Linked DNA regions of Homo sapiens: regions 1, 2, 3 and 4 are each linked to region 5. The links come from fine-mapping of genetic effects on gene expression. A gene starts in region 5. Each other region holds a variant in brackets. All regions are shown on one strand. Distances are from middle to middle. Region 1 overlaps EXOC2 (exocyst complex component 2). Region 2 overlaps EXOC2 (exocyst complex component 2). Region 3 overlaps EXOC2 (exocyst complex component 2). Region 4 overlaps EXOC2 (exocyst complex component 2). Region 5 holds the start of EXOC2 (exocyst complex component 2).

The links.
Region 1: its variant is fine-mapped to the expression of EXOC2 in prefrontal cortex (CommonMind, PIP 0.95).
Region 2: its variant is fine-mapped to the expression of EXOC2 in whole blood (INTERVAL, PIP above 0.99).
Region 3: its variant is fine-mapped to the expression of EXOC2 in CD4 T cells (CEDAR, PIP 0.95).
Region 4: its variant is fine-mapped to the expression of EXOC2 in atrial appendage (GTEx, PIP above 0.99).

The regions. Positions count from the first base shown.
Region 1 is chr6:614,594-621,203 of GRCh38, forward strand. It overlaps EXOC2 (exocyst complex component 2), which reads right to left. Exons shown (of 28, transcript NM_018303.6): 5 at 4,837-4,950; 6 at 3,118-3,242. Among named protein-coding and RNA genes, the nearest start is that of HUS1B, 39 kb to the right of the region's middle. The variant T/C (reference allele first, on the strand shown) is at 3,693.
Region 2 is chr6:532,763-539,372 of GRCh38, forward strand. The region is part of intron 22 of EXOC2 (exocyst complex component 2); the gene reads right to left. Among named protein-coding and RNA genes, the nearest start is that of HUS1B, 120 kb to the right of the region's middle. The variant T/C (reference allele first, on the strand shown) is at 1,765.
Region 3 is chr6:498,499-505,108 of GRCh38, forward strand. EXOC2 (exocyst complex component 2) reads right to left here. Exons shown (of 28, transcript NM_018303.6): 24 at 1,147-1,202. Among named protein-coding and RNA genes, the nearest start is that of IRF4, 110 kb to the left of the region's middle. The variant G/GA (reference allele first, on the strand shown) is at 4,179.
Region 4 is chr6:525,079-531,688 of GRCh38, forward strand. All of the region lies in intron 23 of EXOC2 (exocyst complex component 2), which reads right to left. Among named protein-coding and RNA genes, the nearest start is that of HUS1B, 130 kb to the right of the region's middle. The variant C/T (reference allele first, on the strand shown) is at 4,026.
Region 5 is chr6:689,020-695,629 of GRCh38, forward strand. It overlaps EXOC2 (exocyst complex component 2), which reads right to left and starts at 4,120. Exons shown (of 28, transcript NM_018303.6): 1 at 4,000-4,120. RefSeq lists enhancers at 3,447-4,333, 5,763-6,271 and silencers at 3,740-3,809, 3,820-3,879.

The sequences.
Region 1 (6,610 bases), 74 kb before region 5:
GGGGACTACTTATAAATATATTATCATCAAGAGAATCTAAACCATCAAAAGTGACAAAGTAAATACATGCTTTACATATGAAGAAAAGCCGACAGAATCCAAATTAAAGAAAGAGATTTGTCTGTCATGTTTAATATAAATAAGCTATATTTAAATAATATAATCAATCAGGCATTGATACTATATCAAATAGTGGACCCTGAAGAAACCACATCCGTCCGTCCTTTTTAATTTTTGGCATACTTACAAAAACTTAAATATATATTAAGAAACATATTCTCTGTTCACAATACTATGAGAACAGAGACTATGAAAACAAAAATTTACTAAAAACTACTAAGGAGGAAAATTACAATACACATTTTAAAAACACAAAAAAGATATCTCTGAAGAATCAATGTTAAAAAAATCACACAGAACATACAAATACTAAACAGATAACGAAAGGGCCTATAACATGAATTTTAAATGATTTAAAAATTAGAATGCAATGCTAATAAAACATGAAAATCTTAATAGAGAATTTCAGGGAAAACAAACCAAAATAAAGCAGAGACAGTAGAGGTTTGAAAAGTATATGTGGGTGTGGGTGTGTGTGTGTGTGTGTGTGTGTGTGTATGTATGTGTATACATACATATTTATCTATCTGTCTCACCTGTTCGTTCCCAGTCCCCCCTTGAAGCTACTGATCCACTGCAGTGTCTGTTCAGGAGACCCCAGACACGAATGCACTCCTGCCTGGTGTGATGAAACAGGAAGCACAGCACTATCCATGCCTAAAAGTGTTGAAAGTGAATCTTATCTAATATCCAATTAGATGAGTCCAAGCAATTTAATGGCAAGAAAAATAAGTTAAATGACACCACAAGGAAGTCATCAGTCAAATTCAGAGTGGGGGATATCTTCCAGGACAAATGACCTTGTTTCTTCAACAAATCAATAGCATGAAAAACCAGAAACAGGCTGGGCGTGGAAATTAGCTGGGCGTGGTGGTGGGCACCTGTAATCCCAGCTACTTGGGAGGCTGAGGCAGGAGAATCATGTGAACCCAGGAGGCAGAGGTTGCAGTAAGCTGAAATCGCACCACCGCACTCCAGCCTGGGCAACAGAGTGAGACTCCATCTCAAAAGAAAAAAAAAAAAAAAGAAAAACCAGAAACAGGGTAAGAAAGGTGAGGGGATGGTTTTAGTTTAAAAGAGGCTTAAGAGATTTAAAAATTAAGTGAAATGCCTGAATTTTATTTGAATCTTGATTTGGACATATCACCTATAAAAATAAAGTTTGGGGATAATTTGAGAAATCTGAACTGGGAATGAGATGATATTAAACAATTATTGCCAATTTGGTTAACTATGATAATATCATTGTGATTATGCACATAAATGTCCTTGCCCTTACTTGGGAGATTATACTTTCATCTCCACTTTTCACATTTCAAAATTTTCATAACAGAAAAGTAAAAACAACTTACCCGAGCAACTTTACATATCAGCTCTGTCAAATTTGAACCATGTAATTCCTAGTCTACATAGTCCACTGACAATAGTGGATCTCTCTGTGTTGCTCTATGTGCTGTCAGTGGTAATTTAGAGAGAAGAGCAATAAGCACAAATAAAGAATGGCACACCATCAAGAAACATAAGGCACACATATTTATCAGGAAGAGCACCTACCTTCTCTGTTCCCTCTTAGACATTCACATTTTACCCCTTCAAAAACCTAACTTCTGCCGGGCGCGGTGGCTCACGCCTGTAATCCCAGCACTTTGGGAGGCCGAGGCGGGCGGATCACGAGGTCAGGAGATCGAGACCATCCTGGCTAACACGGTGAAACCCCGTCTCTACTAAAAATACAAAAAATTAGCCGGGCGCAGTGGCGGGCGCCTGTAGTCCCAGCTCCTCGGGAGGCTGAGGCAGGAGAATGGCGTGAACCCGGGAGGCGGAGCTTGCAGTGAGCTGAGATCGCGCCACAGCACTCCCGCCTGGGCGACAGAGCGAAACTCCGTCTCAAAAAAAAAAAAAAAAAAAAACTAACTTCTACCTGCAAGGAAGAAGCTGCATCACATACACTGCATCACATACACATTTAATGTGTTGGAGGTCAATTAAGTATATATGGCACAGGAAGAGGGGGGCTTATTTATTTATTTATTTATTTAATTTATTTAGAGATGGGGTCTCGCTCTGTCACCAGGCTGGAGTGCAGTGGCGCGATCTCGGCTCACTGCAACCTCCGCCTCCCACGCTCAAGCAATTCTCCAGCCTCAGCCTCCCAAGGAGCTAGGACTACAGGTATGCACTACGCCTGGCTAATTTTTTGTATTTTTAGTAGAGAGGGAGGAGGGGGACTTTTAAAATAATAAAAGAATGTCTATACTTTAGGAATAAAAATAATTTTTAAAATTTACCTTCCTGAATTGAAGAAGATGTGGCCTCAATGCATGGTTAGAGTTATGGATACTTAAGCTATATGGGTATTTAGTTTTAAGTATCTTAGCTATTAAAAAGAATTGAGTTAACTTTTATTGATATAGATTACTTTTTACTAAATAGCAATAATTAAACTTTCATTAATTAAAAGCAGTTTTATAAAAAAAAAACTCTACCAACATCTTGCATTAAAATGTCTAAAGCTATGACATCTGTACTCCATACAACGTCCCTCCCATACACAGATGGCACAGTGACAGCTACCTGCGTGCATACGTGGGCGCCTGTGCGATAAGGGCTGAAGAGACTGGTATCCTATCATCAGCCTTTCCAAAGTGAACACACAATGGGTTGCATTTATAGAATTAGTCACATATGTAAGATATTGGTGGTTGTGCATTGGGATTTAATTTCGTATCAGCCCTGGAGTGTGGACATCACAGAGAGTTAAAGTAGTCTCCCATTTCACACATGTAAGATGGGTTAACAAAAGCCTCAGAGATAAATTTTTAAAGTACCAAGTCTTCAAAGAGATGCCAGCCTACTCTGCAACAAATATTTATAGCACATTTGAGATCTCTACTTTGATAAAAACAGACCGAGTGTCACACCCTGTAAACACCCTGCAGGCAGTGCCGGGTTTCCATGGCGGAAGCTGCCAGCAGATGGCTCTGAGGATCGCCTTACCTGAGAGGGCATCCTGTGCTTCGAAGAATGTACTGAGACCGCCTTTCACATAGGCCAGGCTGCCCTCACTCTTCTTGTTAGCCTGTCTCTTTAGGTTGGTGACTGCCATTTTGAGCTGCTCAAAACTGAAATGAAATAAAGAAACCAAAGTTTGACACTTCTAACATGCAAGAAAGAAAAAATAATTCCTTCAGTGGAGAACACTAAATATGCTAAAACCGATGCTAAGTAGCACACAGATTAATATCATACGAAGCCAGATGAAATCAAAAAGCTTTCAAATTGTTGCGTAGATCTAAACCTTTTATTTATTATGAATGCCTAAATTACAACAGCTACAAGACTTTCGGAGCCCTCGATGGTAATTCCAAATACATTAGACCCCTAAGAAGTAAATGTGTAGATGTTTTTATAACCTATATATAATATATACAATTTACCAGATAAAGAGTTTTGAACATCCTGTACTAGGTAAGAAGACACAGATCATCCAGTGATAGACAACATTTCAAAGATGGAACTGCTTTGTACATTCACTGAAGCATTGTGGAACACTAAGCATAATGTTATACTTA[T/C]CAGTATCCAGTCCTCTGTCCTTAGTCATAAAATTACATGAATCCTGTGGGTCGATTCACAACTTAAATAACTAGGAAGACCACAATATCTCATCTCAATATCTAAAGCAGAGAAAACTAAAGACAGGCCTCTGTATTTCAGAAGTTTTATGTCCATTTGAGCTAAGAAAATCCGGCTATAAAACTTTAAACGTATTCTTGATAGACCTACACAAGAAACAGAGCTCAATTCTGACTTATAATAATAGAAATTCTACATCTGTAATGTAAAATCAGAATCATCTTCTACAATGAAAAAATTCATCTTGGACATTTGCTTTAAAAAGCAATCAGGTTAAATTTACCCTATGTATTAAAATGCCAACCTTTCCTCATCTTGGACATTTGCTTTAAAAAGCAATCAGGTTAAATTTATCCTGTGTATTAAAATGCCAACTTTTCCTGATGTTTTCTAGTAATGCTTTTCACCCTAATAAATGAATGAAACATTTATATTAAGGTATATTTTAACACACTAATTTATCAATAATTTAAGTTTTAAGCAATAAACCATTGATTTATCCAAACATTTTTTGCTGAATATAATTATTTTAAATCAATCTTGCAAATAAGCTACAAACTTGCTCTTGTACAGAGTAAAATGTAATTAGAAGACAGAAGGGAACCTTCAAATTGGATATATGACCTTGTCTACTTTTTTGCTAATTTTAAGCCAGGTCCTTACATGATGATAAACCAACTCATCTTCCTTTGCCCTATGGTCAGAGAAGGCAGTGTGTTCCATGTTTTACCCCAGAACTTAAAATTTTTATGTTATTTGAGTAGGGAGAGATCACATTCATACATGTCAGTTTAAGTCCCCAGCTAAGGCTCCATAAATTTTTAATAACCTGCATCAATAATGAAATATATTGAACATAAAATGACAGTAGGAAATGAGAGACCTCTAAAGAATCATCCCATTGCACAAACAGGGAAACAGACACCCTGAGATGTTCACGGGTAAACGCAAAGTCAAAGAGCTCGCAGACCTAAAACCATGTAACTGTATGCAGAGCCAGACCTAAAACTCGAGTTACCGTGTAATTCCATCTTTAGCATCTGAGTGAAACCCTTCACAGTTGACAGTCCCATATCCACTAACCTGGTGTTTGAGTGATTCTCTATAAGATACCAGGCTGCTGAGAAATTCTCACTTGTAAAATCAGCACTCATTCCATGGAATAGCATTTCTAAGTCCTTCTGCGAAAATTTACTTCTGAGGGGAAAAAACGTTTAAAATATATTTCAATGGTTATTATGACAAAAATGGAAAAGGTATCACTAAGTATCCAGTATAACACATATGAATACTAACCATTACAACAATACATATTAATCATACATTACCCAGAACATGTTTGTATATATGTACAAAATATATTTCCCACATCATGGCTGATTTTTCTATCACTTAAACTTTGATTTTATATAGAAAAGATAGGAAACTAGTTGAAATACAGAAATTACATCAATAAAAGAATATAAGGTTTAAAGAGGATTAAGACATCTGGCTGAGTTGACAGTTTTATTAAACCTATCAAAATATGACATCAATCCCCATTCAATGTATAAAAATCAAAATTTGAATACAGTGAAATTCTAAAATATTAAATCACTTTGTTAAAATGATTTTTGTTAAAACCTAGATGAAAGTTGTTTTAAGACATACTAAGAAATCATCAAAGTACTAATAAAACCACATCTAATCACAAAGCACTCACATTTGCGTCCATGTCTAGAATGACTTTAAGAAAAGCTTGTGATAACAACAGGGTATATACATAATCTGCTGCTCCCTCATCTTGCCTACATGTTTAAGACTGACTTCTGGATCAATTCATTTATATATTCGTTCGACTATTAATCAAGTATCGACAATAGATCAGGTTCCATGCTGGGATGCCAGATGTACCCACCGAGGCTCACAACGTGGCAGCCTTTGCTGGCGCCCCCTGCCCCATTTGCAGGATGAAATCCAAGCATGTCTATGAACTGAATCTGCTTGTCCCTCAGGGCTCATTTCTGCCACTCTAGGCATGAAACCTGACGCTTCGGCAGCCTCAAAGGGACTATACTGTCTCGCATGTTGGTCTCCACCATCTTGGGGTTTACTTTGTTCGTCTGATTTGCCGCCCCCTCTAAGATGTGTCCCCTACCCCAAAACACTGGACAAGCCCAACTCATAAGGTATAAACCAGACACAGATCATTTGATAGGGTAGTATCTCTTTAACAGTTACGCAGTGGGGAAAACACTCCTACCCCAAAAGAATTTTAATGTGGGTAGGTCCGATGACTTTGGTATTCTCTGGGAGAGTCTTGCTGTCTCCTCATTACAAACACAGCCTCAATTCAGAAATTAGGCAGCTTAGTTCGTGATCCACACTCCAACTTCACCCAAAGGTAACATTTTTTTCTTCCCTCTTCCCAGCCAAGGTCAATAGTTAATAGGCTGCTTACTCGTTTGGGGGAAAAATGGCAGCTCTCTCGTAGAGGTTAAGGGTGGGATGGACAGAGAGACAAGAATGGAATGTCCTTCGGGGCCTGTGCCTGGTACTGCCATAGGTGGTCTGTGCTCTCTGCCTGCCAGGTATTCGAACCTACTTGAGTCTTGGGGGCATTTTCACGGGTTCCCTAAAGGGCTCTGGAGGACTCCTCCAGCCATGACTCATGGATGCATCTGCTTCCTATTGCCACTCCTCAGCCTCCAGTGGTCTCAGTCTTACCGCAGACACTCCCTGCTGGAGCCCCTCCACGTTCAGGTGACCAGTGCCCATAGGCACAACTTCCAATGGCCTGGAGCCCACTCTCTCTAGCAAGGTGCTTGCACACCTGGACATGGAGAACACCCCTAAAATGCAGCCACCTCTACTGTCC
Region 2 (6,610 bases), 160 kb before region 5:
ATCTCTTTTAGCATAGCTATTTTGCAGGAGAAAAAATAATCTCCATATATGGACTACAGGTCATTGTATTAGTCCGTTCTCATACTGCTATAAAGAACTGCCCAAGATTAGGTAATTTATAAAAGAAAGAAGTTTAATTGACTCAATTATGTTATGCATGGCTGGGGAGCCCTCAGGAAACTTACAGTCTTGGTGGAAGGCAAAGGGGAAGCAAGGCATCTTCTTCACAAGAAGAAGGAGAAGGTGGCCAGAAGGAGAAGTACCCAGTGGAAGGGGAAGAGAGCCCCTTATAAAACCATTAGATCCCATTAGAACTTACTATCATGAGAAGAGCATGGGGGAAACGGCCACTACGATTCAATGACCTCCACCTGGTCTCTCCCTTGACACGTGGGGATTATGGGGATTACAAATCAAGAGGAGATTTGGGTAGGGACAGAAAGCCTAACCATATCATTCATTTTTGAAAATACTAACCACTCATTTCTGTACACAGAGCAAGAGGCATTATAAATACTAAATTGTAATAGCCAGTAAACTACAATTAAAAAGGAACCATTTAAAATCATGTTCTGTTTCTTCATATTAACTAATTCATTTGAAAAGTGTGACCAATAGAAAATAAGCCTGCTCTGACACTCCAGTAACCCCAGTGTGGCTCCCCTGGATTCTCCCTCCAGTTACAGCTCTGCTTGAGGGGCGTGCAGGTCAGGCCTTCGAGTCTAAGGCAACTCCACAGGGAGGCCAGACACACGCTCGCTGTCATGGGCAAAAAGGAACAGGAAAGACCCCTATCAGTAAGTCCTGTCCTTGGCACAGTTCAGCTGCATGGACTGTGGGGGCTCCCGATGGGAGTGGGAGCAGAAGAGGGTAAGGAGGCTGGCATCAGCCCTACGTGAGTGTGCCTTGTCTCACCAGCAGGCAGGAGGCCAGAAGAAGAAGAGGGGGGAGGCAGAGACCCAAGCATGGAGGATATGGGAAGTCTGGGGTGTGGAGAGTCTGTGGGCCCAGGTCACCCTGCAGGGGGCTGGTGGCCGTTCTGCTTCTGCAGCACTGGCCTGAGAGGGATAGGCTTCTCTCCAATGCCAGGCCTGAGCTGCAACGAACTACAGTGAAAAATAAACACACGTCTAAGGGAGTCCGCTGCTATGCACAGGCACATCCACCAAGCAGTGAAACTCAGCTGCAGAAGAGACAAGCAACAACTTGAACAGAAAAAAGAAAGAAAACCCTCATGACGATTAAAGTATAATACAAAACAAGATTTCCAGAGGTGAAACATACAACTTCCAAAGCTAACAAATGAGTAGATTAACACAAGGAACTCCTGGTCACTGTTGAGACTGATCTGAAGTGCAAGAACTACTTCAAAACATAGAGTAAAAGTGTAAAGACATGAAAACTATGAACAACAAGACTAGAAGATAAACCCAGGAGCTCTAACATGCAAAAAATAGAAATTCAAGTAAAGAAATACAAGCAGATAGAGAAAAGGTATTCATTAAACAAGCAGTAGGAGAAAATTTAACTGGATCTAAAGAAAGACCCAAGTTTGCAACTTGAGTAGGCTTGCAGAGTGCCAGGCTAGACTGGTAAGACAGCCCACATATCTAGGCAACTACTGTTAAAGTTTCTAGTTTCTAATACATTTACTCTAAATGAGAGAGAGACAGAGAGAGAGAGAGAGAGAGAGACAGAGACAGACTGACTTTCAAGCTTCTAGATCAAAACAATAATTTACTTACAAAGAAGAAAGAACTGGTC[T/C]GACGTCAGATTTCTCACATGCAGTACTGGGAGCTGAAATCACTGGATTAAAATCTACAGGAATGAAAGAACAGAACCCAAGAATCCTGTATTTAGCCAGCGTGTCATTCTCTTAACAGAGTCCGAGAAAGATATTTTTGGATATGCAAGGGTTCAAGGAGTATTTCACCCATGTAATGAGAAAGGGCTCTAACCTAAAATCAAACACATCAGAACGAAGAAGATGAACTACTGAGGAAAACAGTGACAGGCAATAACTCTGAGTTCCCTCTCGCCCTTCTTTATCTCTCTCTTTCTCTAGTATCTATAAACACAAACCGAAATAGATGATTAGAGACTCCCTGGACATGTGAAATACAAGTGTGAAGTAAGATTTCTTCAAAGGAAGGAGGCATCCAAAAGGGAAATACTAATAACACACAATGAAGAGATAACATATCAAAATCTGCAAGAGAGAACCAGTGGCTAGAAATTTATAGCTGAAAATGTTTTAAAAGAAAAGTTTAAAAGGAGAAAAACTTAAATCACTGCTCTAATTTTCTGCCCCAAGTATCTAGAAAAAGAGAAAATTAAACCCAAAGAAAATAGAAGGAAAAGATAAAGAACAGAAATCAATATCTTAAAAAGGTAAATATTAAAGAAAACCACCAATGCCAAAAGTAGGATCTTTGGAAATAATAATAAAAATGATTAGCCAGGCATGGTGGTGCGCATCTGTGGTCCCAGCTACTTGGGGGCTATGGTGAGAGAATGACTTTAGCCCAGGAGATCGAGGCTGCAGCGTGGTATGATTCAACTACCGTACTCCAATCTAGGTAACAGAGCAAGACCCTGTCTCTTAAAAAATTTGAAATTTTTTAAAAATTAAAAAGGAATAACAACAGAAACGATAAGCTCCTGGGCAAGACTGATGAAGAAATAAAGAAAAAAACCCACATATTGCCAAGAACAGAAATGAAAAAAGAAACATTCCTATAGATCCTGAAGACATTAAAAGGATAGTAAAAGGACATTACAGTTTTATGCCATCAAGTCTTGACAACATAGAGGAAATTGCTAATCTGCTGAAAAACACAACCTTCAAAAACTGGCACAAGTAGTCCTATATTTATTAAACTAATTGAATCCATTATAGACAAGGACTTGACAATGAGAACTTCAGGTCCAGGTGGTTTCATTTGTGACTCTACCAAGCATGTAAGGAAGAAATTATAGCACACACAAACATTTTCATAGAATAGAGGCTGAAAGCATTTCCTATTTTGTTTAATGAAGCCAGTATAACCCTAATATCCAAACTGAGCAAGATATTGTAAGAAAAAAATCACACGCCAATAGCCTTCATGAACAAAGACATAAAAACCCAAACAAACTATTGGCAAATAGAAACTATAAATAAATTTTAAAAACATATCATGCAGAAGTGGTATTTTTTCAACAGATGAAAAAGCACTTGAGAAAATTCAATATACTTTCATGACAAAAATTCTCAGTAAACTAAGACTAGAAAGAAAATCAGCTGTGTAAAGGGCATCTACAAAATGGTACAAATATAGAGTGCTTTCTCCAGAAGATCAGGAATAAGGCAAAGTTGTCCCCTTTCACCACTATTTCAAGATTATACCAGAGGTCCTAGTCCATGAGATCTGGCAAGAAATAATACCAAAAAAGAAGAAGTAAAACTGTTTTTATTAACAGAAGACATCATTACGTATTTAGAAATTCTAAGCAGGTTGACATACTAATGGAATAAGTAAATTTATGGAGGCAGCAGAGTCAATAACAAAAATCAATTATATTTCTATATAATAGACATCGAAGGATTATAATACAATACCATAAAAAATAAAATACCTAGGAATAAACTTAACAAAAGACATGGAAAATCTCTAATGGAAACTACAAAACACTGCTGAAAGAAATTAAAGATGGCCTAAACAAATAAATAGGATCATCAATATTGGTAATTTTCTCCAAATTCAATGAACCCCTAAAAGGCCTTTTCTTGGTAAAAATTCACAGGCTAAAATTTATATATAAATGGAAAGGACCTAAAATAGCCCAAACAATTTAAAAAGAACAAAGTTGGAAGACTCATACTACTTGATATCAAGACTGACTATAAACCTATAATAAATAAAACAATGCAATATTGGCATAAGGATAGACATCATAGACCTAAACATAAAAGTTAACATTACAAAACTTCTGGGAAAAAATATTCAGGACATTGAAGCAGGTAAAGATTCTGACAACATATGAAAGGCATTAAACATTTTAAAAGCTTGATACAATGGATCTCATCAAAATTAAACAATTCTGTTCAAAAGATATTATAAAAACAAAACAGCAAGCCATGAACTGAAAAAATATGTATGCATGACAAAGGACTTATTTAGAGCCTTCTAAAAATCGTCAATAGAAAGATGACTGATCCAATTTAAAAATGAGCTGGGGTTAAACAGCACTTCAAGAAAGAAGCTACCTGAATGTATCTGAATATACAAGAAAAGGTGCTTAACATCATTGTTAGGGAAAACCAAATAAAGCAACAATGAGACTGGCTGAAATAAACAAGATTGGTAATATTAAGTGTTGGCTAGGATGCAGTTTATAACCGAGTTTATGACCGACGGAGCGTACACTTGAGTTGACGACCGACGGAGCGTACACTCGAGATGACGACCGACGGAGCGCACACACGAGATGACGGCCGACGGAGGGCACACACGAGATGACGGCCGACGGAGCGTACACTCGAGTTGACAGCCGACGGAGCGCACACACGAGATGACGGCCGACGGAGCGTACACTCGAGTTGACGGCCGACGGAGCGCACACTCGAGTTGATGGCCGACGGAGCGTACACTCGAGTTCATGACCGACGGAGCGTACACATGAGGTGACGGCCGACGGAGCGTACACTCGAGTTGATGGCCGACGGAGCGTACACTCAAGATGATGACCGACGGAGCGTACACTCGAGTTGATGACCGATGGAGTGTACACTCTGGAAAACTACTCAGAGTTCCTAATCAGCTTGTGCCACGACCAGCTATTGTACTTCAAGGTTTATATCCAAGATCAGTGAGTACAAACATCCACAAAGAGACTTACAGGAATATTCACCACAACTTTATCCATAAAGGCCTAAAACTGGAGACAACCCCATGTCCATCACCATGAGAATGATTAAACAAAATCTGGTTATCCAAACTCAGCAATAAAAGAAAATGACTCACTGGTACACACAACTGGATGAATCTCAAAAAATTAATTTGGAGCAAAAGAAGCCAGATACAAAAGACAACAAACTGCATGGAACTCCACGTAAAGTTCTGGGACAGGCAAAATGATTCTCTGCAGATAGCAGCTGGAACGTTGCTGAGAAGGGAGCCTACTCAAACAGGGCACAAGGGAAGGTTTTGTATTTTCATCTGGTGGTGGATGCTGGAACGTGTGCATATGTAAAAAGCCATCAATCCATAAGCTTAAGATTTGTGTCTTTTACTGTAGGTAAATTACACCTCATTTTTTAAAAAAAGAAGGGAAAAGAGGAGTTGAAAATAAATAGATGTGCAAACAGTTAATAGGCAAATGCTACAAAAAGAGAGTAGAATGGCAGTATTAATGTGTGATGAGGCAGGATCAATGTCAGGAGTACACAGCTCATACTTTTTGTTGTAAGGATTTAAACAGATAATTCAGGAAACTTGCATAGCACACTGAAAGCAAATACATAATAAATGCTAGCAGCTATTTCTATTAACTCAACAGCCTCATTTTCACTAACACCCTGTTCACACTGGCTGCTGAACATAGAAAACTGGGTCTGCTTGATTCCTGCTCAAAAAGCAAGGGTCAGATCCATCTACCATTAATCGCTATCTGAGAGTGAGGAAGAAAGATTAACTTTAAAAACATCCTGACACTAAGGAAATCAGTCTTATAAAGTGATGTGTTTAAGGAATGCAGTGGTTAAACAGAGACGGAGCGCTAAAGGGTCACTGATGGGGGTGAGAAAGGCAGCAGAGTAGACATGCCTGAGGGTCCAGTGGCCTTTTAGGGCAGGTGTCTCTAACAAAAACACAGTGCCTCCTTTAAAAAAGATAACAATTTAATTGTGTACAGACAGTCCCAACTTATGAGAGTTCAACTCATGATTTTCCCACTTTACCAGGGTGTAAAAGCAATGCGCATTCAGTATGTTCCCTGGCTTATGATGTGCTACGTCAGGTTAAACCCACTGTAAGTAGAAAATATCTGGCCGGGCACAGTGGCTCACGCCTATAATCCTAGCACGCTGGGAGGCTGAGGCGGGTGGATCACGGGGTCAGGAGTTCAAGACCAGCCTGGCCAAGATGGTGAAACCCTGTCTCTACTAAAAATACGAAAATTAGCCGGCTGTGGTGACAGGTGCCTGTAATCCCAGCTACTAGGGAGGTTGAGGCAGGAATTGCTTGAACCCGGGAGGCGGAGGTTGCAGTGAGCCAAGATCACACCACTGCACTACAGCCTGGGTGACAGAGCAAGACTCTGTCTGAAGAAAAAAAAAAAAAAGAAAATATCATAAGTAGAAAATGCGCTTACGATATTTTCAATTTTGGAAGGGTTTATCTGGAGGTAGCCCCATCATAAGTTCAGGAATATCTGTATTCAGAAATAGACTTACTCACTGAATTCGTACATATTAGCACTGAGGAGGGTCTTTCGAAGCATTAAAAAACTGTGGGTAATAACTTACAGAAGTAAAAGGCGTATGCTGGAGGCAGAATTCTGGTGTAATGGACAATACTCCCAATAAGCCAGCGCCCTGCCACCTTAGCAGCAATCATGTATATACTCA
Region 3 (6,610 bases), 190 kb before region 5:
AAAAAGATCTATGTGGTGACTTCCTGCCTGAGTTAAATCATATAAAAACTCTATTGTTAGAGATGAATTTGTATGTTTCCCTTTCATAAGAACTGGAAACTGTAACGTTCTATAGTTTTCTTTCTGCTCTTGGCGCTTCAAACTTCTAGCCAAATTTAGGAACCAGGTAGTGTTATCTTTGTCTTCCCTGGTCATATTCGGGTTTCACTCTTAATTAACCATGTTTTTTCAGTTTACCTTGATGGCCTCAGATACTTTTGGATGCAGCAGGCGGCATAAACCTAAAAACACCCTTCTTGGATGCTTGTCGCCCAAGAGGCACCTGGGCAACGGTGGAAACGACTGAATGGTAGCCTCTTTGATCTGCCCCACTTTATCTGGTCCCCCATTAGTCTGTGAGCCACAGCCACTCTCAAAGTGTTGGCAAAGCAGTGAGTAACAAATCCTGAAATGACTGAATGAAAACAGGCAGCCATAGATCATGGTGGTAGCTCTGGTCTCTTCTTTCAATGTTCCTCAGAAGAGTCCTCCTAACCAGGATGTTCACTGAGGATGTTAACACAAAGCTTAAGATGAAAGCGTGTCAAGTGAGAGCAAGTTTTCGCATGGCCCAGAAGCACCAATACTGTCTGCATGACCCTAAGTCAACCACGGACAGGAAACCACGCATCTGTTCCAGTGTCGGCCTGCCCCGAGTCTCTTTCTAAGCAGTGTCTGCCTTTCTGGAATCCCAGCCACTGCTACAGGAATCAGATACCAGTGCTTATTTGTACACAGGCTAAAAAGAGGTTAATTCATTTTCCAAGATAAGGGATTTACTATTCTTTGAAGGATAAACATCCTTGCAATCTATCTTCACCTTTCAAATATTTATGAATTTAGCTGGAATTATCAAAGAAAACATACAATTTCAGAGAAAGACTCACAGTTAAACACACACACACACACACACACACACACACACACACACACACAGAGACAGAGAGAGACAGACAGTGCGAGCAAGAGCTGAACTGTATCTTATTTATACCCAAGACACATTCTGAGGGAAAAAAAAGACCACCATAGAAATAATCAAATTTACATCTTTCTTTTTTCTTTTTTTTGGTTATCCATATCTCTTAGGAACATCTAATGATACTTTACCTCTGCATGCACGGCAATTATATTCACCAGTGCTTCTTTTAAATAGTTTCTGACACCTGAAATTGAAATAAAGGAGAGAAAGAAGGCATTAATAATAACACAAGCTCCCCTCCCCTGCTGGCAGGCTGTACCCCATGCTTTAGAGTTTTCTGAGGAGAAACAGAAAGTAACACCACCACTATTTCCTTTTGAGAATCAAATGGTGAAAGGAGTATTTCCATACAGGTCAAAAAGAAAAAAAAAGAAATGAGAAGTTTTCTTTTATTGTTTTTCATTTCTGTCACTGTTTATGTTCTCTATAACTGGCTCTCAGTCGGCCTCAAAATGAAAATTTAAGAATGTTCTTCAGTTTCTTCACGCACACACACACAGAGAATATATATAGATAAGTATCTATATATACTGTAAAACATATACACACTGTAAAACATATACGGTAAAACATATATACTGTAAAACACACACACACACTCAGTATAAGCAGTAACACAAAATACAGAGGGTGTTTAACAATGCTTATAAAATGCACATTAAATATCAATTATAGCATCTTACTACCAAAGGTGAAAGTCAAGTTATTGAGCAGAAGGACCATTTTTGTCTTAAGGAATCACTTTTAGGAGAAACTCCTTATAAAACTGAATTTGATTCTGTAAGCAAGTTAAAGCCTGGACAAAATAAAACATCAGATTTTAGGTACAAGTTCAATGAGCCTCACTTTGCTCAAAAGCAGAAACACACAGGATTTAAGAATGTGGGGTCTGAGGTCTGACTATTGGGGACCAAACCCCAGTTTCGACAGCTGCTAGTTGTGACTTTTGGCAAGAAGGCTGTGAGCCTCAGTTTTCTCATCTGTCACAGGAGAATAATAATTGTCCCACCCTTGGGGGGCTGCAGTGAGGATGAAGGGGGATGCATGCCATAGGTCCTGGCATTCACAGCGTTCACTAAGAGCTTTCATTATCATCATTTTGCAGGAAAAAAACCCCATAAAAACAAAATACTGTTTTATTGTGTTTCCAAAACAATTCCTTTCCCTTGAAGTGGGAGATTCCAGATGCCTTCTAGAGCTGCACACACTGAGAACATCTCCTCTATAGAACAGGGAAAATGCTGCACTGTAAAAGCATGGATGTTCCCAGTAACAACATTAAGGAAAATATTCTCCCAGAGTCTCATCCACGCTACTGGTTAGTTGGGAAAGTTGAGATAGAGATCAAGAACTATAATCAACCTTTTGAACGGGCATTTGCATATTCCAAATATAGAACTAGGTTTTGATTGTGTCACACACTACGGTATACAAATAAGGACACGGTTTTTCTTTTGAGGAGCCAATTTCATATACAGATCAATATCAAGGGCATAGGTATATATCGAGATATATATAGAGACATATAGATATACATATCTATATATATCTATATATCTATATATCTATTGGCTCCTCAAAAGATATATATATTATATATATCTATATATATTATATATATCTATATATATTATATATATCTATATATATTATATATATCTATATATTATATATATCTATATATATTATATATATATTATATATATCTATATATATTATATATATCTATATATATTATATATATCTATATATTATATATATCTATATATATTATATATATCTATATATTATATATATCTATATATATTATATATATCTATATATATTATATATATCTATATATTATATATATCTATATATATATATTATATATATCTATATATATTATATATATCTATATATTATATATATCTATATATATTATATATATCTATATATTATATATATCTATATATATTATATATATCTATATATATTATATATATCTATATATTATATATATCTATATATATTATATATATCTATATATTATATATATCTATATATATTATATATATCTATATATAATATCTATATTATATTATATATATTATATATCTATATATTATATATCTATATATATCGATATATATAGATAGATATATCTATCTATAAAAGATATATATATCTATAAAAGATATATATATCTCTATATAAAAGATATATCTATCTATGTATATATATTGGCTCCTCAAAACAAAAACAGTGTGCTTATTAAGTCTATTTTGCTGAGATGGCTGAGTGAAGAGTAATTCAATATAATCCAGAAATTAATGGATTCTTCCTGAGAAAAAGGATAATTGCAAGGTAAGAAGTCTTATCTAGGAGGCAGGAGAGAAGAACAGAAAGAGCCTGTTGTAAGTGAAAGTGAAATAAACGAACTCGTCTGGAGACCAGAGAGGCTTTCTTCCCGCAGGAGGAAAGCCACACCCCCCGGTGTCCCCAGACTGCTCCCGCTGCTGTGGGGGCACTGGGGCCTGGCCTCGCCGCTCATACCCTCTGGGCAGCCCCACCCAGGGGCGGAGATCCACATGCTCAGGTCTGGTCTCTAAGCCGCACGCCATGGAGGACCAGCTCATGTAGACGCACAGGTAACATACATACTTACTGAAAATCGAAGCACAATAGTAAGCTGCTATTTTCGATGCTCTAAGGAACAGAATAAAAAATTCACAGCCTCTGCCCTCAGTGAGAACCGGGGTCCTGTCAACACTCCTGCAAGAACAAGTGTCAGGATTTGGGGCTCTAACGATGTGCTACGGTGCAAGGATGACTGGAAATGCGAAGGCAGTTTTTAACTTTTGAAATTCCTCAATGTAAAAGAAAAGAGTGGGGGCAGAGTGCTGACTAAAAAGCAGAAAATTATACTTAGAGTGAAGCCAGGCGGTGTCACATGCTCAGTGACAGCCTGCTGTGAACTCAACTCCCACTCGGACCCCGACATCATAAACACTTCCTGGCAAGAACCCACCCGCCTAAGCATTACTAATAAGACACCCCGTAAAAGAGGTGAAGTGTAAACTGCTCAATGCAATTCTGAAGACAAAGCTATGAATGGGAAGAATAAAGGCACAGGACCCTTTGAACCAAAAGAACCATATTTTTGTGGGCAGAAAATTTG[G/GA]AAAAAAAAAATCAAGCTTCCTATTTTGGGTCGAGCACAGGTTTCACATGGATAATATAAGGAGCTCAAAGACGTAACCTTGGACAAGAAAGAACTTTTGTATTTCTAGATTTTATCTTTTTGAATGAAAAAAAGGAAATAATTGCCTTCTTTCCCCTCACACAAAAAAACGAAATAACTGCTTCATACAAATAACTGGTAATGTTGGAAAAAGAGAAGGGAAAAATGTGTGGTCCTGTGTGGACAGGAAGTGGTACCGCTAGTCAAACCACACATCAGGCCAGTGAGGTTCAAAGAGGCAGCATTCAACTGGATGCATCGGAAAGGGCCGGAGTGAGGCGGAGCTCTGCGAGCTGCCATCATAACCTCCCAGTGCAGTGCCTGTGCTGGTATTATAATTTTTGGTAACAAAAACTTTAATATAAAAATAAATCATTGATGGTCTCTCTCCAAAAAGCTAATCGCTGAATTAAATACAGGAGCAAGTACTTTTTTTTTTTTTTATTACCGATTGGGCTGAAATTGTTCATTCTAAGGGAATGGCTAAAAGTTCTCATTCATTCAACTAACATAAATTCATTGAGATCCTACTACATGGAGGATGCCACTAGGCACATGGCAGAGGTGCTCAAGGCATATGGTGCTCCAAGTAGAACACGTATACATCTCCAGTATATGTAAGACCCCAAAGTGCTTAGTTATTACAAGTTTGACCTGCCAATATATGCAGGATGGCCATATGAAAGAATTTCATGTTGTAAAAAACATCTTTGCCCCATTTACCCTGATGTGGTATTTATTACGCATTTGCCCTGATGATGTGGTATTTATTTATTACGCATTTGCAAGCCTGTATCAAAATCTCTCTTGTAACTGCTAAGTGTATACACCTACTATGAACCCACAAAAACTAAACATAAAAAAATTTATACTTCAATTTAAAATAATTTGTTATATGTTTGGTTGCTATATTTATTTTGTGAAGTCCTTAAACGGTTAAAGAATAGTACTGGATAGGAACAGAGGAAGGGCAAAGGGCCTAGAGACCAGATAGTGTCCGTGTCTGGGAAACCGGTAAGATCTCTGTGGTCTTCCTCGTTCAGAATTTCGCTTCCTTTCTCTCTTCACTCCGGCCACAGCTGGGTACTGGCCTAGGGAGAGACCAGCCGAGTAGCACGCCCGCACCCTCGCCTTCCTCCTCAGCCTGTCCCGTGGGCTCTTGGGTCCAAGTAAGACTTTTACTCCCATAAAGCACTCACTTCCAATTGCTTGTTTTCTGTTTCAAAATGTTATCCAAAATCTGTCTGTGGGAGGATGTCAGCTCTTTCAAACACCTGTGTCCAAAGAAGCCCGTGCTGGGACAGGTGCTGGGGTGGCCCGGCTCGCTGGCTCCATGCAGCTCTGACGGCCAACACCGTTGGCAAAAGCAGTAGCCACGTGCTTTCCCGACTGGGCAGAGGAAGGTGCTGGCAGCCAGGGTAAAGGCATGCACATGCGAACACTGAGAGGAGGCCCAGACCAGGCAGGGGCTGGGACGGTGACGTACGGTGATGCAGGGCTCGCCTGCGGCCTCGCAGTCTCTTCCTTAAATGGGAGGTCAGACGGAGAAGGTGAGGCAGAGGCCGTCAGAGAGGGGCTCCGTGTGCATCCGTTATGGAAGCGGCTGAGGCCTCGCGGTGATGGCAGAACGATGTGTGGGATGAGTTTCAAAGGACCTCAGTTGTGGCTCCTGGCGGCAGGACCAGAATCTGATTTTTGGTGACAGAACCTTTTTCAAAGGGCCAGTGACGGTGACAGAGGGGCCATGCTGCAATTATTTTTGGTGGCATATGTCCTCCTCCCATTGAATTTCATTCCAATGTCACTATCAGTAACGTTAGTGCTTGATAATTCCTTTTAAGTTTATTGAGGTGACAGAAAGAACACTTGAGATGGAATTTCCTGGCTAACCCTACACCAATCGTATGACCTTCCACAACTCAGCTTATCTTTCAGACAACTGCCTACTCTGCGAAACAGACAGATCACGAGACCCATTTTGCTAACGAAGCTGTTATGAAAATGCCACGTGTGTGCAATTCCCCCATTCTTCCAACACGTGCTGTGTATCTATCATGTGCTGGGCATCAACAGGTGGTGATATAAGAAAGTGGGCAAAACAGACAGGACCCCCCACCCTAAGAGAGCTTACAGGTCAGTGGGGAGGAGCATCTTGCCAATTCTAAAGTAGTACACATATTTCAGGTGTTAATTTAAAATTAAAGACATAACAGTTGACTAAAAAGCATAATGACTAGAAACAGCACACTGATTTCTCTTTCTGAAATGCAAGGTATTAAGTTTGGACAATGGTCCTGCCATGACTGTCTAGCTGCTGCAGATCCTGGCTGTACATTAATTCTTTTGAGTGGTACAAGGAATGGCTAACAGTT
Region 4 (6,610 bases), 160 kb before region 5:
GTTCAATTTTTAACTGTGGAACGGTTAGTCTGATAAGTTCTTCCTCTATTACTGAAACCAAAATTCCTCTGAAGCTTGCACTTTTTATTCTGTGGTAGTTCTAATTAAGAAAGCATGCTACATTTTATCATTAATTTTAGGATAGTTCCATCACAGGCTTACATAAAGGCATTGTAAAAACTTTCTAAGTGTAAGATAGTGCTACTACTAAGCTAACTTTACTAGGTTTTTCTTCACAAATTTACCCAAAGTGGAATTTATTCCATTTTCAAATGTCTAATAAAATGTTGAACATTGTTCAATGAGTGTTCTTGCAATGACTAGAGGCTTTCCTCTAGACTGACATGAAGACATGATGGCAATAAGTCAGCAACTAGGACTCCTGAAAATATCAGGAAAAACTGTCAAATGACTTGCAGAAACCTAAATTCACCATGTATGCCATTTCTCTATCAAATCAAGTGTGTGTCCAAGAAGAAAACAAGTTAGTACTGCATGTGCCTGTTCTTTGTGGGTATGCTGTCTCCATGAAGTTTTTCATTTCTTTAAAATATAGAAATTTCTTTTTTTAAAATAAAAATACATCTATTCTGCCCCAATATTTTTAAAAACAAAATTTTAAAGTAGAAAATTAAAGTTTTCTAGCATGCTCCTTCTTATCCCCTTTCAAGATATGTGTATACATGTCAAATTGTACATATGAAATAGATACATTGTCTTTTTCAATAAAAATGAGGAAAGAATGAATGCATGTCTCCTTAATCAACATTTTCTACCAATATATGTACAGTCCCCCACATATAGGTATGCATTTACTTATCCATCTATCCATCTCATCCATTATAAAGAAAGTATAATATTTGTTTAGATATATAACAAATTATCTAACCAATTCACTACTGATGGGCATTTAGTTTTTCAGATTCTACATATATTAAAAAATGTTTCAATAAACATCACTGTACATAATTCTTTACTTACTTCTGTAAAACTTTCCTTAAGACAAATTCTTAGACACAAAATTTCTAAGTAAATTCTATACATATAAATGTGTGCATACACACACACGCACACACACGTATGTGTATAGATGGGCCAATTTACACTCCTAGAAAGATGACGGAATAGTTTTTTTCTCTGTACCTTTGCCAAAAAGCAGGTATTATCAAGCTTTACAGTATCTGTCAATCCAGAGGGTTTTAATAAAATGATACCCTAATGGTATTTTAAATTACATTCTTTGAGAATTGATGAATTTTATCCTATTCTTATATTTATTGGCCATATTAGTTATTTTGTGAATTTCATGAACTTGTGTCTATTCTACCAGCACATCTGCCTTTTTCTTTGTGGATTTTTTTTTTTTTTTTTTTTTTTTTGAGACAGAGTTTCGCTCTTGTTGCCCAGGCTGGAGTGCAATGGCGTAATCTCGGCTCACGGCAACCTCTGCCTCCTGGGTTCAAGCGATTCTCCTGCCTCAACCTTCCGAGTAGCTGGGATGACAGGAATGCACCACCGTGCCCGGTTAATTTTATATTTTTAGTAGAGATGGGGTTTCTCCATTTTGGTCAGGCTGGTCTTGAACTCCCGACCTCAGGTGATCCGCCCGCCTCAGCCTCCCAAAATGCCGGGATTACAGGAGTGAGCCACCGCGCCCGGCTCTTCGTGGATTTCTAATGGAGGCTGTTTATTGTCTAGCAACACAGCACAATGCCTAAAATTAAGGGCTGCCTGGATTTGAACTCGGAACCCCTACCTCACCATTTCCTAGCTACATGAACTTGAGCAAGTCACTTAACTTCTTTGTGCTCAGTGGCTTCATCTATAAAATGAGAATAAAAATACTGCTTACTCCTTGAGGTGCTGTTATATAGATTAAATCAGGTGATTTATGCAAAGCCCTCTGCCTTGCACATGGTATATATGCAATAAATGCTGACTACGTTACTAAACATGGGTACCTAGTAATGTGTGTATATAAATGCATGTATAAGGAATATATGTATAAATTCACATATACATGTAACATACAACTTATTTTATAAGGACCTGAAAACATTTTAATGGTCCATTTTCTCAGAGAGCTACATTAAACTTTGAGGTCTGTCTGCAGTTTTCCATTTTTTGAAAATCAAACAAAAATTACAATTTCTCCTTATCTCCATTCTTGTAGCATTTTTCTTATTCTCTAGAAATTCTACGCTGGACCTGAGCTTTGAATGATTTAAGTTACAGGATGCAAGAGATAACCTAATTGTGCAATGTCTCTTGTAAAATTCAGTGAAAACATCTGCAAGATACATTCCAAAAGGCAGAGATCTTAAAATAAAATTCAACAAACATAGACTTGAGAAGAGCTGTGCTTCTGCCTCTGTCTCCATAATTAGACTTACATTTTCTTTCTCTTCAATTTGTTGGAATATGCTGCTTGGCACACTGCCTGGACAACACACTTACAAGTTTCGCTCACTGATGGACTGTGCACCCCAAGCCTGTGCTCTGGCACACCACTGACGGGCAGGAGGTTACCCTACTCTAGGTTATATGCATCATACATGGAAGCAACCAACTCTGCTGTTATTTTTAGAATGGTCCTAGACATACTCATGTCACAAATTATATAAAGTTTTCCCTTTCCCATTATAATTTCAATTACTATAATTAGTATAAGCACATTTGAATCAAAAATAAGTTCACTATTTACCTATAGAAAATGATTAAGTTTAGATTCACTTAGTAAATAACTTTAAATAATATACATTAATTTAAATTTTTATGACTTTTTGATAGAAAAAATAAAACCAGTATTTAACAGAAAACTTAAATAATACTTTTTTCTTATTTAATGTTTCAAAGACGTGAACTTCAATGTGTATTTGTAAGTAAAGACCAACAGTATTCTTATTTAAAATTTATAAAATTCAAATACTAAGAACTCTTAATAATTGCAGATAACAGAACAATTAAAATCTTAACAGCAGTTTTGTGACTCAGAACTAACTAGAATAATCTTTACTGACATATACACAAATAAAGAGGTGACAACAATTTAAATACCCAACGGTAAGATTTAAAAAAACATCGCTACGGCTTTAACGGATATCTCTTGTTGAATCATGAAATTAATCAACTGGATTTTTTTTTTTAATCACTACATACAGTATCGGAAACTAAATTTATTGGTAACTACAGCAATAAGTAATCAGTTACCTACATGATTTGCAAAATTCAGTTTCTGAAGAAGTAAACTCTGAAGATAATACTAAAGTTGTTAATTGAAATTATTTTGGAAGATTAATAGTCAAACTATTTTGGCTGCTCACTTTACACAAGGTCTCAACTTAAGTCAGCTTTAAACAAACTAAAAATCACTATATGACTATGCAAGGCTGAGGTTCAGTTAGTAATCATGAAGTCAAAACTACACAAAGAACAGAACTAAATAGAGTTTATAAAAGTGAAACGAGCACCGATGACTTCTACATGTTTTTGGAATCTGAGGAAGAGTAAATAAATTGCTGGTAGTATGGTGCCATGTGCCATTTGCTTATGAAAGAAAGTTTGTCAGGAAAAAAACAAAACCAATAAACGAAGCTATGTTAAAAAAAAAAGCCTCACCACTTAATGTCACACAGCCAGAAGAATCTTAATTTTGTAGTGAAGATTATCTGAGGTTACAGACTCTTATTAAGATCAACCTCAGGATTACATTTAGGCTCTGATCCTAATTCACAACCGAGGCTTGTCTAGTTCAATGTCATGGCTGGAAAATATGAAGGTCACAGAGACAGGATTCTGGGTACCTTAAATAAATCCAGTGAGGACTTTGAAATTCCAAGTGGTGGTAACTAGCTGGATGCAGAAGAACCCTAAGATAAATCCAGTGAGGACTTTGAAATTCCAAGTGGTGGTAACTAGCCGGATGCAGAAGAACCCTAAGATAAATCCAGTGAGGACTTTGAAATTCCAAGTGGTGGTAACTAGCCGGATGCAGAAGAACCCTAAGATCCCCGTTAGCCCGGCAT[C/T]GCCTGCCTTTTACCCCCCCCCGCGCCCTGGTTACTGCTCACTCAAGTGCTGCCACACGATTCACAGCCTCGTGATAATGGCCAGCAGCCCCTGCACTTGAAGTCCTGTGACCTAACGCCGCCCTTCAGGGAATGGGCCTTCATAGATGTCTGTTTTCCGAAGACACCTTGGAGCGGGTGGATGGGAAAGACCTGCCTTTCACCTGACAGACATTCTCGACTGCCCCTGCCGGTGTTCGGCATACACTAAAGATGCCTCGCTGTTTGTTAACGGAGGCAGCAGGTCTGAGAGAGGGCTGGCAAAGAAAAGTCTTCTTCTGCATCAGGGGCAAATAAATCCTCTTTCTCGGTAACAATCGGAGATTTCAGTGACGACAGAGAAGAATCACTTTGTTGAGAGTGAAACTCGGTGGCCCATTCTAAATTTTTATAGTCATCACTGAAGCGCAGGAAACTCAGAGGGGCTGTGTCATGATTTTTTTCTATTCTCAAAGAAATATCACAAGTGATTTAATAGCCTTGAACATAACCAATTAAGATAAGCATGATTTCAGAGTGAACAGTTAACGTACTTACATGTGAATCACAGGAAAAGATATGAACTTTGACAAAATTCATTTAAACTATTACTGAACAATGTATTACTTTTTGCATGGTGATGCAAAGTAATACATTGTTCAGTAATAGTTTACATAACTAAACAGATAGAATTGCTGATGTGTTAGATGTGTGAACAGTTAATGTCGTTACATGCTAATCACAGGGGAAGATACGAACTTTAACAAAATTCATTTTAACTATTACCGAAAAATGTATTACTTTTTGCATGGTGCAAGGTAATACATTGTTCGGTAAGAGTTTAAATAGTTAAACAGACAGACGTGCTGATGTGTTAGATACACTTGACAGTCGCATTTTAATTGAAACGCAGCTGCTCAAATTTAGCAAGTCTATGCAACTACCATATGAGAATTCACAAAGGACAAGAAAATGAGCACTCTCACTCATTCCCATTCAGCAAATATGAATATCCACCGTGTACTGTTTATTAAAAAGCAAATCAGAAGAACAGTGGAAGCTAGAACACTGTATAATGTACTTTCCTACTGAGAAAATTTTGAGAAAAATCAGGCAAAAGCATATGGCAAACACTTAGAAGAGAAGGAGCAACTGGCACATTTAGAGAGATGGTATATTATTATAGAAAATGCCAATCTTCATTTACTCCACAAACACACACACAGCATCAGCTGAGTGTCACAGACTGCACTATGCTAAAAACTCTGAGAACAAGACACCCAAATGACGGCCTTGTGCTGAGACTGTCCAGCAAGGAGCTAGATAACGACAAAACATTTCCCGCGGGCACAGAGAGTGGCAAGAGCTGCTCTGGGAGCATCACGAATGGAGGTAGGCCAATGCGACCTGGAGACATGCAGGGGATGGGCTGGGTGAGCTCCCAGAGGACACAGGGCCCGGAAGGGCAGGAGAGGTTAGGAGAGGGGCAGAGGTGAGAGGGACTAGGCACAGGGTTCACAGTGCACGAAGCACCCAGCCTGCCTGCTGCCTGGGGGAGCCCGTGGAGAGGGAAGTAACTCATAGCAAGCACAGGGAGTACTGCTGGCCCTCTGCATCTGTGGCCTCTGCATCTGTGGCCTCCACAACAGTGGCTTCTGCATCTGTGGATTCAACCAACCATGAATGGAAAATATTCCGGGGTGGGGGACCCAGATGGCTGCATCTGTACTGAGCATATACAAACTTTCTTCCTTGTCATGACTCCCTAAATGATACAGTTTAACAACTATTCACAAAGCACGGGCATTGTATTAGGTGTTATAAGTAATCTAGAAATGATTTAAAGCATACAGGAGGATGTGCATAGGTTACATGCGAATATGACACCATTTCACACTGGGAACTTGAGCATCCGTGGAATCTGGTACCTGTGGGGATGCTACCTTGTCTGAGAAGTCTGGGGTTAGCCTCAGGGAGAATGAGCCTCCTCGAAGGTTTTTCAGCAGGGGATTGACAGGATCCAATTTATATTTTAGAAGGATGAGCTTTTCAAAAAGGCAGAGGTTGAGTCCAGCTGGAGAGGGGCTGTGAGGTGGAGCATTGGGGCAGTGGGCAGAGTGCCAGGGCAGAGGTGGGCACAGCACAGCTTCCCCGGTTTTACTATCATGAGAAGATGTTGTAAGAATTTTAAGTAAGATACTGATAGAACCTGCCTTAAACTTTAAAAGGATGTACTTTGAGGGTATGAACTGAATGTGGTTTGGGCACAGAAAGTGTGTGCACAGAAAAGTGTGTGCACAGAAAAGCACATGAGGAATAAGGGCTGGCATGACTGCCATGACTGTGAGCTCAGGAAATTCAATAACTGTGGTCACATTAAGTAACTGTGGCTAATTTAATGATCCCAGTTTTTAGTTTACACTTTTGGCATCACTATACGTGAACACTATACAATAAAAACCAAAGGTGTTTAAACAGTAAACAATTTTATCATCGTTTAGTATAAGTGCCATACAATAAAAACAAAAGGAGGTTAAAGTGATTGGTTAAAACAATGAAGTTACCAA
Region 5 (6,610 bases):
TGGCACTGTTAGCAAGCAGTAAAGGGAAAAAAGCCTTCAACGCTGCACTTGTCACTGAGTGCTTAAGATGTGCCGGGCACTAGTCTTGAAGCTCTCTGGATCCACCCTGAGCAGCTCACCTTCTCCTAAGCTGAAATCCAGTCTTCCCCAGTCCTGTGTCCAGTGTTCGTTCCATTATTGGCACCAAGATTTACTGTGGAAAATATTACATAGAAAAACTGATAAACCCAAAAACAAAAATAAAGCAAACTGGATGATGTATTTTTAATCTGAAATGCTACCAAGGGAATTAAGGTAAAGGATGTTCAGGAAGCTTTTGAGCTGGCCTAATAAAACTTTCCAGGAAAAACAAACAACAAAAAAGAACTGTCTAACAAATCAGTTCCAAACTCTTCTGCCTGTCAGTCAAGGCACTCCACCCATAATCCAAAATGCACTCACTTACCAGCCCCTGGGCCTTTGCTCCTGGTATGCAGCCCAGGTGTTCACACGCCTTCCTTCATCAAGCTCTTATCATCAAAGCTTCCCAATTACTCTAGCCCCAACGGATCCTTCCTACCTCTGAGCTTCTGCTGGACTTACACTCAATACTACAGAGTTTAGTTCTTAGCTATTCTTTAATTGAGAGGGCAAAAATACCCCTTATGAATCCAGGCTAATATTATTTGATTTTTAATATATGTGTCAGGCATACAGTAAGACTGGAAGATACAAAAATAATTAAAACTAATCCCGATCCAGAATGAGCTTAGTCTTTTACTGGTGTATGTAAACACCATTAATAATATTGTCCCTAACACAACACAAGTGCTATAAGACAAGTGCTAGGTGGTTATAGGATTCACTGAGTTGGAAAATTTCAAGGCAGGAAGGATTTCAGAGATAATCTAACTGCATGTATTCTCTGAATACACAAAAAAGGAAACAGTCCAAAGCATCTAAGCAACTCAGCCAGTACTATGAAGCAGACCAGATTAGACCAAGGACCAGTGTATAGTTGCTTTGACGCCTAAGCCAAAAATACCTTTTGACTCTGTGATTTTCAAATTGAGATCAGCCAGGCACAGTGGGTCACACCTATAGTCCCAGCACTGGGAAGCTGAGGCCAGCGCATCACTTGCATTCAGGAGTTCAAGACCAGCCTGGGCAACGTAGGAAGACCTCACCTCCACAAATAATTTTTAAAATGAGCCGAACCCGGTGGCACGCACCTATAGTCCCAGCTACTTGGGAGGCTGAGGTAGAAGGATTTCTGGAATCATGGCGCTCAAGGCTGCAGTGTGTTGTGACTGTGCCACTGCACTCTAGCCTGGGTGACAGAACAAGACCCCCTTTCAATCAATAAACAAACTGAGATTGAAGGATGCCGATGCGTGTGTCACCCATCGCTTTAAGATTCATAATTTCCCGGCCCGGCGCAGGGGTTCACGCCTGTAATCCCAGCACTCTGGGAGGCCGAGGTGGGTGGATCACGAGGTCCACCGTCACGAGGATCGCGACGGTGAAACCCCGTCTCTACTAAAAATACAAAAAGTTAGTCGGGCGTGGTGACGGGCGCCTGTAGTCCCAGCTACTTGGGAGGCTGAGGCGGCAGAATGGCGTGAACCCGGGAGGCAGAGCTTGCACTGAGCAGAGATCTCGCCACTGTACTTCAGCCTAGGCAACAGGGTGAGACTCTGTCTTTAAAAATACAAAAAAGATTCATAATTTCATTACAATTACTTTTAAGTTTGTGTATTCATATCAATAATAATTTTTGACTAATATAAACATACTCTAAAGCATATGATTAGAAGTCCACACTATCACCATGTGATTTCAGCAGGCAGTCCAGAAGGTCCAAGAACATATTCCCCAGGATCTGAGTACAATCAACATCCTAGTACACCGCTTAGCAGAGTGATCAATGAATGTTATTTCCCAGTTTCAAAATCCTCTCAACAGTGACCTAAAATTCATCCATTCAATAAACATTTAAGCACCTACTATGTGGCAGACGCTGGACTAGGAACCCAGGCTGGATTAAGATGCGTAAACTGGAGAATGAGTGGAAAAGTAACTGAGAGGACACCTCTGTAACCAGCACTTCCTGTATGGCCTAATCTTGCTGCTGCTTGACACTAGAAATATTAAAAGTTCTTTGCTAGAAGACTATTTTTTCAGTACCAACTTCATTTCCCATATGATTCTTACATAATGGGCTCCCAAGAACTTAGCAAGTTAATAACCATCTTTTAGAAAAGTAATACAGTTGACCCTTAAGCAACATGGGTTTGAATGAGACAGATCCACTTATACACGGATTTTTTCAACAAAAGTTGCACTGAGTGTGCCTGCATCTCCCACTCCCCTTTCACTTCCTCCATCTCTTCCATCTCTGCCATTCCTGAGAAAATCCCTCCTCTTCTTCCTCCTCCACAATCTACTCATGCAGACTATGGGGATAATAACCTTCATGATTCTCCACTTTCATTTAAAGAAGAGTAAATACATTTGTTGTGATTTTAACATTTTCCTCTCTCAGCTTACTTTAAGAATACAGTATATAATACGTATAACATACAAAATACATGTAAGTCAACTGTTTATGTATCAGTAAGGCTTCTGGTCAACAGTAGGCTATTAGTAAAGTCCTGGGAAAGTCAAAAGTTACATGGAAATTTTTGACTGCGTGGGCACCCCTAACCCCAGTGTTGTTCAAGGGTCAACTGTAGTTCAAAATGGCATTCAATACAGGAAATTAAATACTTGACAAGAAAAAAAGATCACTTTCTAAAACTTCCAAGAGTTGGTCCAAGTCACACTGGGGGAACTCTGCTTCTCTGCTTTAATTTATTAAGTTTCTACTTAGACAAACAAGTGAACATGTAAGTACTAAGCACACATCACCCTCTTTCTATTACTACTCTGGGAATCGCCAACTTTTAGCACAAAAAAATCATCTTTGAGAAGATTCTGGCTTTCAGTTGATTTGTCATTAAAGGAGTCAGTTACACAAAGCATGGGCCAGTACATACTAACATTCATAAACAAAACATTATTATGCATTAGAAGACAGATCCACATAAGCTCAGAAGTAACTTTTCAATATTGCATAGTGCACACAAAAAGATTTAATTAAAGTGTGGCTAACTTAGAAAAAATATTTTTTAAGTGTTCCTTGTAAGTTTACTCACAGATTCATAAAGGCATCAGACTTAAAATTTCTCAGACTTATTAGTATGTTGACCTTTGGCAGATTAAAAATAACTTACTTCCATTCAAAGACGAGTTCTTTCAAGAACTATTTCTCGGAATTACTAAAGTGTTTTCTTAACAATCTTGGGATACAGGGTTACGCATCACCAGGCTTCCAGGCTGCTGGTGTGCGGACCTGGAGCCGGCGCGCAAGGTCTCAATGGCAGCTACAACAGGACCTCAGGCTCTTTGCTCAAGCACTCTGAGCCGCCGCTCCCCTATCCGTAAAATGGGTCACACGGCAGCGTACATACACCCGCGCGAGGATCAAGTACGTGCACGCAAACGCTGACAACAGCGGCAGGCGCCTTTTAAGCGCTCAGGACAGCCAGAGCGGGATGCACGCCTAGGCAGACAGGTAACACCCGCCTCGCGTTCACTTTTCCGGAGAAATTCTCAAATCTCACGGAGTGGCAACTGCGCAAGGGCGAAGCGGCGCAGTCTGGGGCCAGCTCCAGCGGGCGGGGCCTGGAGTCAGCCCTCTGCAGCCCACGCCCCTCACCGGCGCAGGTGGGGACCGCGGGGGTGCGAACTGGCGGGGGTGGGCGCGGAGCCCAGCAGGCGGCTGACGGCGGGGATGGGGGCTGCGGGGCTGGGAACCGCGGGGGGTCGCGGGGCCCCGCAGGTGACCGACGGCGCCAGTGGGCGCGGCTGTCCCTTCACCGCTGAGGCCTGGACGGACGCCGCAGGCGGCCACCTCCGTGCAGCTGACGTCCATGTCCCGCTGGCCTTCGGCCAGGCCCTCCAGCCTCCCACACATACCTCCAGCCGTCCTGCCGCAGCTCACGGCCGGCACAGACAGGGCCCGGTAGGTCTCGCCGAAGACTCCGCGGCCGCCAGCCGCCGGCACCTCACTTCCGCCCGCCGCGAGCGCCGAGCGTGTAGATCCGCCTGGCAGTCGAGCGCCGAGTCCTCGATGGGCGGAGCCTTCAGGGGAGGGTAGAGGAGGGGAGGAGACCGGCGCGGGTGCTGGAGGTCAGCAGGGGCCGTGGGCGGTGGACGCTGGAATGCCTTGGGTTCCGAGGGACCCAGCTGCCTGAATGGACACGAGTAGGAGGTTTTTGCTGGGCGTCTTTGCGGTGGCGGGAAGCGGTGAGGGAGGGAAAGAAGGATACAAGCTCAAGGGGCAGGCCGGGTGCACCATCCATCCCCGTGCCCTCGGGTCATCTCAGGGAGACTGTGGGATGATAGTGCGTTTGTGGGCCACAGTTCACAACGATGGGCCCTGCATCGGGTCAGAGGACCCCTCCGGAACAGGGGGATGCACAAGGTCAAGAGAATGCATGGAATCAGAGGGCTGCACCAGGTCAGGGGGGCTGCACCGAGACCAGAGGAAGCATCAGGTCAGGAGGATGCACTGGAGTGTGCATCCCCAGGGGGCCACACTGGGTAAGGAGGATGCACCAGGTTAGGAGGCAGCACTGGGTCAGAAGGATGCACTGGAATCAGGGGACTGTACCAGGTTGGGGGGCGTGCCTCAGGTCAGGAGGAGGCACTGGGGTCCGGGGGCAACATTGAGTCAGGGGCAGCCCTAGGTCAGGAGGATGCATGGGGTCAGGGGGCTGCAGGGGTTTGAGGGCTGCACTGGGTCAGGGCGCCATACCAGGTCAGGGGATGCGCAGGATCGGGGGAGATGCCCGGGGTCGTGGGATGCTGGGGGTTGGGGGGATGCTCGGGGTCGGGGAGTTCTCGAGGTCGGGGGATACTCGGGGTCAGGGGGTTCTCAGGGTTGGGGGGATACTTAGGGTCAGGGGATGCTCTAGGTTGGGGGAAGCTCGGGTTCAGGGGCTATGGCCAGGGAGGAAGGACAATCAGGAAAGTGGGGGTAGCGGATTCTGGAAGCTAAATAGTTTCAGGAAGGAGGAATTGATAGCCAATGTTCAGAAGTACTGTGAGGCCAAGACTCCAGAGACAATTGAGTTTGGCATATGCCAGTCATTGGCATCCTTGACAAAAGCAGTTTCAAAGGAGTGTGGGGAAGCTACATCTCGTCAGAGTGGACTGTGAAAAGAATATTAAGTGAAGTGGAAAAAAGTAAGTTTCAACAACCTAGGTTGGCAGATTTAGCAATAAAAATACAAATACCCAGTAAAGTTTAATTTCAGATAAACAACAAGTAATTTGTAGTATAGATATATTTATCACTAAACTAATGTTGCATGGGATATACTTCTACTAAAACATTGTTTTGAGAGGTGACAGCGTGCTGGCAGCCCTCACAGCCCTCGCTCGCTCTGGGCACCTCCTCGGCCTTGGCACCCACTCTGGCTGTGCTTGAGGAGCCCTTCAGCCCACCGCTGCACTGTGGGAGCCCCTTTCTAGGCTGGCCAAGGCCGGAGCCGGCTCCCTCAGCTTGTGGGGAGGTGTGGAGGGAGAGGCGCTGGTGGGAACCCGGGCTGCGTGCGGCACTTGCGGGCCAGCGCGAGTTCTGGGTGGGCGTGGGCTCAGCGGGCCGGCACTCGGAGCGGCCAGCCAACCCGCCGGCCCTGGGCAGTGAGGGGCTTAGCACCTGGGCCAGCAGCTGCTGTGCTCAATTTCTCCCCGGGCCTTAGCTGCCTTCCCGCGGGGCAGGGCTGGGGACCTGCAGCCTGCAGTGCCTGAGCCAACCCCCCCCGCCATGGGCTTCCGTGCGCCCGAGCCTCCCCGACGAGCGCTGCCCCCTGCTTCACGGCCCCCAGTCCCATCGACCACCCAAGGGCTGAGGAGTGTGGGCGCATGGCTCGGGACTGGCAGGCGGCTCCACCTGCGGCCCCGGTCGGGATCCACTGGGTGAAGCCAGCTGGGTTCCTGAGTCTGGTGGGGACTTGGAGAACCTTTATGTCTAGCCCAGGGATTATAAATACACCAATCGGCACACTGTATCTAGCTCAAGGTTTGTAAACACACCAGTCCGCACCCTGTGTCTAGCTCAGGGTTTGTGAATGCACCAATCGACACTCTGTATCTAGCTACTCTGGTGGGGACTTGGAGAACCTTTGTGTCCAAAATCTGTGTCTAGCTAATCTCGTGGGGAGGTGGAGAACTTTTGTGTCCAGCTCAGGGATTGTAAACGCACCAATCAGCACCCTGTCAAAATGGACCGATCAGCTCTCTGTAAAATGGACCAATCGGCTCTCTGTAAAATGGACCAATCATCAGCAGGATGTGGGTGGGGGCCAGATAAGAGAATAAACGCAGCCTGCCCGAGCTGGCAGTGGTAGTTTGCTCCGGTTTCTTTCCACACTGTGGAAGTTTTATTTTTTTGCTCTTTGGGGTAAATCTGGCTGCTGTTTATACTTTGGGTCCACACTGCCTCTATGAGCTGTAACTCTCGCCGCGAAGGTCTCTAGCTTCACTCCTGAACCAGCGAGATCACGACCCTACCAGAAGGAAG